Regions from separate parts of the Homo sapiens genome. Here region 2 is linked to region 1. The links come from fine-mapping of genetic effects on gene expression. A gene starts in region 1. The other region holds a variant in brackets. All regions are shown on one strand. Distances are between the middles of the regions. Region 1 holds the start of TMCC1 (transmembrane and coiled-coil domain family 1). Region 2 has its middle 24 kb from the start of TMCC1-DT.

Region 1 (4,381 bases):
TTACTAACCACTGATTTATATCATTATCTGAAATGATCCTATTTGCTTGTTTGTTGTATATTCCTCATTCCCATACATACAGAATAAAGCTTAATTAGGGAAGAGGCCTTGTCTGTTTTGTCCCAACAATGTAGCCCAGTACTTAGAAAACATCCTGGAACAAAGTAAGGGCTCAATAAACATTTGATGAATTAATGAATGATCCATAAATGCCACTCTGAGGAGCTTAAACCTAAGCCCTGAGCCATTATATGTTCTGCACATTTATGAGAGGCATAAGCAGTCTTGCAGAAAAGGGGAAATATTCTACTATCAAGAAGGCCCAGTTTAAAGTAATGGTGGTTGGTCACCAACTAGTCTAGGGCACTGGGGTTCTTCATCAAATTGTAGACTACAGGTCTTTTGTGCTCATAAAAGAGTCCTTCTGCAAGGTGTCCCAACACTGTCAGCGGTCTGTGCTTCTGTTTATCTTAAGATGCAAATGCTCTGAGAAATCTCATTCTTATACACAGTACACAGCACCTACACCATACCAAATCTTAATCAATGCTCATAATTATAACAGTTCTACATCACATGCTAATGAATTTTTAACGTCTAAAATTTTCCTATGCTGCTGATCAGCAATCTATAAGCAGCTCAAAACTCTTCAGAAATTAAAAGGTTACCACCCACAGACCAGAAGCAGCTTTTTAATCTTTCTACACTAGCCAGAGAGTGGGTGATTGCAAAAAAATACAAGCCAACTCTGTTGGTAGAGGACAGGGTTATTAAGTTAAAATCCCATCTATAAGCATCGTTTTGTCACATGACACTAGTAAAACTACCACCTACTCACAATTTGAGTTTCAATCTCCTAATATACAGAGAAAAAAATGTATCTACCTCCTGGAACAAATCAAAGTTTTGTTTTATTTTAAAGCAGCTATCTGATATTTATGCCCTGGATTTTTTTTTTTTAAGAACAGAATAAGCTAATTTAGGAATTCACACCTTTCGTAGAGATGCTTATGGTACAGGTACCTCTGACGGCTAGGCTCTACCAACACTAACGTGTAACGTGTCACAAAAGCCAACGGGCGTTGCGGGGGCCGGGGGTAGCCAACAGCTCAAGTGGGCTGCTTCACTCCGTGGCAGATTCACCTGGGGATTCCTCACCAAGAATGTTGTTAAGGGACGAACCAAACCAACCACAAATGATACCCCTTTACCGAGGCTGAAAAAGCAGAGATTCGCAAGCTATAAACGAATCTCTGGCCCTTTAGGGAAGGTGCAACTCGCTGCACCTCTTTCCCCTATCCTACAGGGGTTAACAGGGGGCATCCTGAGGCCGAGACCAAGCCCAGCCAGCTCCTCCTCACATCCCACCTCCCACTACATATTCTCCCCAGTACGCCGGGCTCCCTCCTCCCCTCGAAAGACAGTTCAAAATCAAAACAATAGGTGCAAAACTGGTTTCAGGTGGAAATGGCTGAGTCCTGGTGGCTAACTTCTGGGACGCCATGGCGATCGAGGGCTCCTAAAACCCCAGATTCCGACGGGAACCGGCTCCTAAACAGTCCCTCGGGCCTCGGCCCGACTTCTCACACGCCCCTCCCTCACCTCGGCCCTGGGATGCTGGGAAGGGAACGAGGCGAGGGGCTGGAGGGGAACCCCAGGTCAAAATGACAGCGGAATGAGCCGGGAAAGGAAAGAGGCCCCGTGGGATGCTGGGGGTCGAGTCCTAGGCCCGGGGCTTCAACCTCGAACGGGGGCGACGGCAGGTCCCAGCCCCGACAGGCCGCGAGCGGGAGGCCAGGCCCGCGTCCGCTGCGCCGCCAGGCCACGCTCCCTCACGACTGTCCCCACCCACCGCGGAGGGCCGTGAGGGGGCCGCGACCGCCGCCAGCGTCCGGGGCGGGGGCGCTCACTCACCGGCGGGGAGGGGAGGAGCAGCCGGCGTCTCCGCCAGCGCCGTCGCTCGAGCTCAAGCGCCTGCTCCTTCCACTGCGGCCGCCGCACCCGGTCCATCCCCCACAACCACCCCCCCCTCCCGACCCTCCCCCCGCGCCGCCTCAGCCGCCGCCGCCTCAGTCACCGCCACCGCCGCCGCCGCCTCAGCCCCGGCGCGGGAGGGCGAACCGGCGCGAGAGAGCGAGCGCGCGCGCGCCCCCGCCACAGCCGCCACCGCCCACAACCTCCGCCCCCGGCCGGCGGCGCACGCGCAAGGGAGCGGGCGGACGGGCGCGCGCACGCCGCAGGGGCGGGGATGGGCCCTGGAAGGCGTGGCCCCTCCCCTAGCCCGCCTTCCCACGCGGTCTCTGGGCTGGTTGAGCTGCGCCGCTGCAGGTAGTGCTGAGTTGCTCCAGGTAAGCTCCTCCTCTCAAAAAGCTCTAGGAACCGAGCCACCCTCGCCCTAGGAGCAACGCCCCTGAGTAATATGGGGTTTCGTCGGATTTCTGCCCGCCGCTCTGGATCACACGTTTGTTCTCCCTATTTGAGTCGCAAGGCCTTCCTTCATTCCACCTAGCAGGCTGCTTGGAAAAGGGCAGAGACTCATTACTTTGCACCAGGTATTACCACTGAAGGGATTGTAAGCAGCCACCAGCCCATCCCTTTATAATTCCCATTTTCCTAATTTATTTTATTTTTATTACTTATGTAATGAGGCTTCTTCCGTGTTCAAGGAGCTGGGAGTACCATATGGGGTCAACGGAGTCCCTGGTCTCATGAAGTTTGAGATCTGGTGGAGAAGGAAAACATTCATGGGAGAATCAGACAAAATTAAGTTTTCAATTAGTAAAAATCTTCTGAGAGGTATATGGTACTAAGAGAATCTTTATGGGGGAATTGATTTAGTTGAGGATGAAGAGGGTAGAATCTGAGGAATTGAGTTGGGAGGAGTTAGTTGCTCCAAGGGGTGAGGTCTTGGCATGGCCAGAATGGGGAGCGCTAAAGAATATTGAATGTGGAGTAGACTGCGAGTGTGGGAAGAGGTAGGCGAGAACAGGTGAGGATTGGGGACCTATTTATTTATTTATTTATTGAGACAGAGTCTCACTCTGTCACCCAGGTCACCCAGGCTGGAGTGCAATGGCTCGATCTCAGCTCACTGCAACCTCCGCCTCCTGGGTTCAAGCGATTCTCCTGTCTCAGCCTCCGGAGTAGCTGGACTACCAGCGCACGCCAGCGCACCTGGCTAATTTTTGTATTTTTAGTAGAGATGGGGTTTCGCCATCTTGGCCAGGCTGGTCTGGAACTCCTGACCTTGTGATCTGCCCGCCTCGGCCTCCCAAAGTGCTGGGATTGCAGGCATGAGCCACCACACCCGGCCGGATTTGGGACTTTAATCTGAGTGCTTGGTAGAAGCTATTCAGGTTTTTTTCAGCAGGGTTGCAGGGGAAATAACTTGATCATTATGTCTGTTTTTTGTTTTTGAGAGGCAGACTGGAGTGCAGTGGCGCGATCTCGGCTCCCTGCAATCTCTGCCTCCCGGGTTCAAGTGATTTTCCTGCCTCAGCCTCCCTAGTACCTGGGACTACAGGTGCACGCCACTGCACCCAGCTAATTTTTTTAGTATTTTTAGTAGAAACGGGGTTTCACCATGTTGGCCAGGATGGTCTGAATCTCCTGACTTCATGATCCACCCACCTCGGCCTCCCAAAGTGCTGGGATTACAGGTGTGAGCCACCTTGCCCCCAGCCCATTATGTCTGTTTTTAAGTTACTTAGATAGCAACGTGAAGAGTGGTCTGATGGGAGTCTCAAAGCTGGGGCCGGGAAGCCAGTTAGGAGGCCACTGGCCACATAGTCAAGGCAAAGTAGGAGGGTAGTGACAGAGAAGAGTGCTAATGTAGTGGTAAAATGGACAGGACTTGGCAATAAATTGAATGAGGAGTGAAGGAGAAGGAGGTGGCAAGGTTTACTTAGATTTGAGGTTGGTGGAGGATGCATTTATAGATTTCAGAAGCACTGAAGGAGCCACCTGAGGTAACTCAAAATGGATGATAAACCTAAATTTAAAAGCTAAACCTATAAAAGAAAATTTTAGAAGAAAACATAGAAAAAGTATTTGTGACCTTGGGATAGGCAAAGACTTCTTAGGACACAAAAAATATGAACCATAAAAAGTGATTCATGGCCTGGCTCACACCTGTAATCCCAGCACTTTGGGAGGCCAAGGCAGGCAGATCACTTGAGCTCAGGAGTTCAAGACCAGCCTGGGCAACATGGCAAAATGCTATCTCTACAAAAAATACAAAAGTTAGCTGGGCTTGTTGGCACGTACCTGCAGTCTCAGCTAACTTGTGGGGCTGAGGAAGGAGGATCACTTGAACCTGGGAGGCGGAGGTTGCAGTGAGCTGAGATGGCGCCACTGCACTCCAGCCTGAGTGACAGGGTGA
Region 2 (4,381 bases), 24 kb after region 1:
ACATAAGATGTTCAGAACAGCCAAATCCATAAAGACACAAAGTAGATCAGTGGTTGCTCAAACCTGGGACAGAGCGCACACACGCGCACACGTGTGTGTTAAAAACAACAACAGAAATCAGCTAGAGGTGCATGGTGGCTGCCCTTAGACCTGGCCCGTGCACTCGTTTGCCACAGTCTCCACCATGCCCTGTTACTCCCCGACACTGCACCTAGGGGCCAGGTCCGTTTAGCACAGCACTTCCATCTGTGTTCCTCACACCCTGCTGCTTCCCCTCACCGACTTCACACCTGTCCTGCCCCAGAGGAAGTTAATTTGGTGATGGCCTATGTGAAGACAGTCAGTAGGTGGTTCCCGCCTGGAATCCCAGCACTTTGGGAGGCCAAGACGGGAGGATCACTTGAGCCCACGGGTTTAAGACCAGCCTGGGCAACATGGCAAAACCCTGTCTCTATAAAAAATACAAAACATTAGCCAGGTGTGGTGGCATGAGCCTGTAGTCCCAGCTTCTCAGGAGGCTGAGGTGGGAGAATCACTGGAGCCTGGGAGGTTGAAGCTGCAGTTAGCTATGATCGTGCCACTGCATTCCAGCCTGGGTGACAGAGCAAGATCCTGTCTCACAAAAAAAAAAAAAAAAAAAAAAGGAAAGCAAGGGTGAGTCAATGACAAGAAGGTGTGCAGTGTGGGTGACAAAAACAAGGGGGGAGTCTGCAAGGGGGAGCAGCTTGAGGGGAGCAGAGACTTCAAGGGGAGGAAGCCTGAGTGACTCAGCAATCATTGGGGGACATTAGGGCAGAGGGAGGAAGTACAGGCCGGGTGCGGTGGCTCACGCCTGTAATCCCAGCACTTTGGGAGGCTGAGGCAGGCAGATGACTTGAAGTCAAAAGTTCGAGACCAGCCTGGCCAACATGGTGAAACCCCATCTCTACTAAAAATACAAAAAATGAGCTGGGCGTGGTGGTGCACGCCTGTAATTCCAGCTACTCAGGAGTCTGAGGCAGGAGAATAGCTTGGCCCCAGGAAGTGGAAGTTGCAGTGAGCCAAGATCACACCATTGCACTCCAGCCTGCATGACAGAGTGAGACTCTGTCTTGAAAACAACAACAACAACAAAAAAAAAAACAAAAGAAGGAAGAAGTGCAGGATCCTGGGTGGAACATGTCGGGGTATTCAGGCACCAGGCAGGAGGCCATGACACCCCCCATTCCCCACCAAGGGATTCCTGGTGCCAGTGAGGGCTGAGCCATCAGGGACAGGGACAGGTGCACCCCTTCAGTGGCCATGTCCCTCCAGGCCGGCCTCCCCAGTGCTGCCCCCATGGGCCCCGCCTCTTCCAAAGCTTGCACCCCAGGAGACAATAGAAGCACCTCATCCTGGCATTTAGGGACCCTGGGAATCTGGCCCCACCTTATCCTTCCAGCCTGTACCTGCTGCCTCCGCTTATTCAAGACCTAAGTTTCCTGGTGGCCGTGCCCCCCATGGGGTGGCTGTCATCCAGGCAGGGGTATTCCTGGGGAGCCCTTCCCTTCCCTACCTCCAATGCACCTACAGGGCCCCTACTATTAATAGCAGCACCTCTGCCTGGGGCTCCCTGAGAGGCTGGGGTGGGAGAGGGGTGGTCCAGCAGGCAGTAATCAATGTCCCCAAATGGTGGCAAGTGTGTGTGAATATGTGTGCCGGTGTCTGTGTGTGTGTGTGTGTGTGTGTGTGTGTGTGTGTCTGTTTGTGTTTGTGTGTGTGTGTGGTGGGAGTTTCTGCACTGTGATAGGAGGAAAGCACAAGTGGTTCTGGGATCCAGGGCAGAAGGGGCTCCTCTGTGTCCAGGGCTCAGGGATGCTCCCCAGAGTACCGGATATCTCAGCTAGGACTGAAGGGACAGGAAGTCACTCAGTGCAGGAGAGTAAGGGGGGAACTCTAGGCAGTGGGGACGGTGTGTAGGAAACATGACGGTGTGGAAAATAAAAAGTTCCTCTTCAAAGTTTCCCTTCTTGTTAAAGAATAAATAATAAATGTTAAAAGTAATAGTTTCTTTTAAAGACTAACTTCCTCTTCCTTCCTTATTTGGAAATGTTATTACTTTTCTAAGACCTTTTGCAAGCAACTTCCTCTTTTCCTTTTGTTCTCCATTGCCTTTACCTATTTAGGAAAGTTTTAAGTTGTTAGCCAATTGAGTTTAGCTTAGATTGTGAGGTCC[G/A]TCTCCAAGCAACGAAGAGAGGACACAGCAGTAAGGACCCAGTGTGTAAGGGATAAATATTCCTGCCTTTCTTTATTCATCGTGCTCTTGTGGCAAAATTGCTGATGGGCAGCATCCTTTCTGCAGAAAGTAAAATTGCCTTGCTGAGAAAACTTTTTGTCTGAATGCTAATTTTTCCTTGTGGCACCAAGGAACAAGCATTTTGTTTTCAAGAATCACGTGACCCACCTGGGCACATGGGGTGGTCTGAAAGGCAGGGCTGTGGGGCTGCCCAGGTGAGCCCTGGTGGACAAGGAGAAGGGCTTCCCTCTGAAGCTCTCAGGGCCACCAGCTGGGTGGTGGAGCCCAGAGGTGGCTTTCCCTTGGATCCCTTTGGGAGCCTGAATGGAGGGGTGTGGGTGGGGGAGACTGGAGGCAGTGAGGCTGGTGTGGTGGTAAAGTTCAGTTGAGCCCACTCCCACGTCAGGAGCAGAGTCAGGGTTTGAAGGCTGTGGCCCAGCAAGGGGGCTCAGAACTATTCCACAGTGCCCACGGCCCTCAGAATACAGGCTCAGCTTCTGTCCTGGGACTCGAGCTCTCCCAACCTGGCCCCAGTCCTACCTTCAGACTAGCACATCACTCCAGCAAGACACCCTCGGTCATCCCTGAGCTTTTGCAGAGGCTACCCTCCTGCCCTTGTCCCTACTTACTTAGGCGACCTCTCCTCACACTGCAGGGCTCAGCACACTGGCCTCCAGAAAGCCTTGCTTCATCCCCCACCCAGCACTGACCTGCAGACCATCAGGGTTGTCGGTTAAAGGACCAAAGTCCGGACAGGAGGAAGAGGTTTTGACATCTAGCGCACAGCAGGGTGACCAGAGTCAATGAGAGTGTGTTGCATTTTGCAAAACAACTGAGAGAGTCCGTATCAAATGTCTCTCTGCATTTAGATTGGAGAGGATGAAGGCCCTGAGGTCCAAGAACATGGAAACCTGACAGTGGACGCCAACAGCTGTGGAGAGAAGCCGGGCGACAGCTGTGGAGAGAAGCCGGGCGATATGCTCACGCTTCCGTGTGCCCAGCAATCCTGCTTTATCTTTTTAAATAAAGGTGATTCCTGATAACACTACCGTTTCTTGCAAATTTTGTAGTAGCATTGGAAAGGTGGCAGATGAGTCACAGGCAATCTGCTGCTTTGCGCCCTCCCTGCACAGAATGGGGGCTGTGCACACCCTAGTTTAGGCAGTATGCAGTCATGTGATCCTCTCAGTTACTCAGAAAAACTGAAAGGAAAAGAGACCTCAGAGAAGTATCAGGATGACCCCACCCACAGAAAATCATTACCAGTGGCTCTGAAGGGCTGAGGCTCTGAGCAGGTGCAAGGCAGAGTCCCACACATTGTGCATGGCCTCCCCACACTCACACTGCCCAGTGAGCATTTTCAGAAGGACCAGCGGCCCCTTCAGGTCTCGTCTGACTGTGTTAATCATGCTGAGAGGTCTCCAGGAGGATCCTGAAGTCCTGGGAACCAGACTGTGCTGGGGTTAGAGTGGCATGGGGTCAGAGTGGCTCCCATCAGGGAGCTTCCTCATGTGTTATTAAGAAGTTTGAGGGAGGTCCAGAAGGCCCTGCCCTTGTGCATGGCCGGTGGCTCAGTGTGCACAGCCTAGAACATGCTGTGACCCTGCCCACTACTGATGGTGGCCAGGGACTGTCCTGGAGTTCCACTGGTCAAATACGATTCTCCTTCCCCAATAAAGAGCAGGACCAGGAAGCAAGAAGTGACCTGGGGAGAGGGTGGGAGTGCTGTGGGGCTCCTTGTCTCCCCAGTGTGCTGTTGTCCATAAAATCCACTTTGGGGTTAAGGGTCCCCCAGGTGTGAATACTGAAGAAAGAAGAAAGAAAAAAAGAAAGAAAGAAAGAAAGAGAGAAAGAGAGAGAGGGAGGGAGGGAAAGGAGGGAAGGAGGGAGGGACGGAGGGTGGGAGGGAGGGAGGGAAAGAAACAGAGAGAGAGAAAGAAAATAAAAGAAAGGAAAAGGAAAAAGAAGGAAAGGAAGGTAAGGAAAAGGGAAAGGGGGTAAGGAGGAAAGGCAGAAAAGAAGCTGATCTTTCTCTTTCCTTCTTTCTTTCCTTTCTTCCTCCCTCCCTCCCTTCTCTCCTTCCTTCCTTCTCTCTCTCTCTCTCTCTCTCCTTCTCTTTCTCTCTCT

What was found. PIP is the estimated chance that this variant, and not a neighbour inherited with it, causes the effect. A credible set is the group of variants that fine-mapping cannot tell apart.
Region 2: its variant is the best candidate, but not a certain one, in a credible set for the expression of TMCC1 in whole blood (INTERVAL, PIP 0.82).

Annotation. Positions count from the first base shown.
Region 1 is chr3:129,891,580-129,895,960 of GRCh38, forward strand. It overlaps TMCC1 (transmembrane and coiled-coil domain family 1), which reads right to left and starts at 2,132. Exons shown (of 7, transcript NM_001017395.5): 1 at 1,915-2,132. It overlaps TMCC1-DT (TMCC1 divergent transcript), which reads left to right and starts at 2,292. Exons shown (of 3, transcript NR_037893.1): 1 at 2,292-2,348. RefSeq lists enhancers at 714-1,506, 1,507-2,298 and a silencer at 1,660-2,389.
Region 2 is chr3:129,915,277-129,919,657 of GRCh38, forward strand. No RefSeq gene overlaps it. Among named protein-coding and RNA genes, the nearest start is that of TMCC1-DT, 24 kb to the left of the region's middle. The variant G/A (reference allele first, on the strand shown) is at 2,195.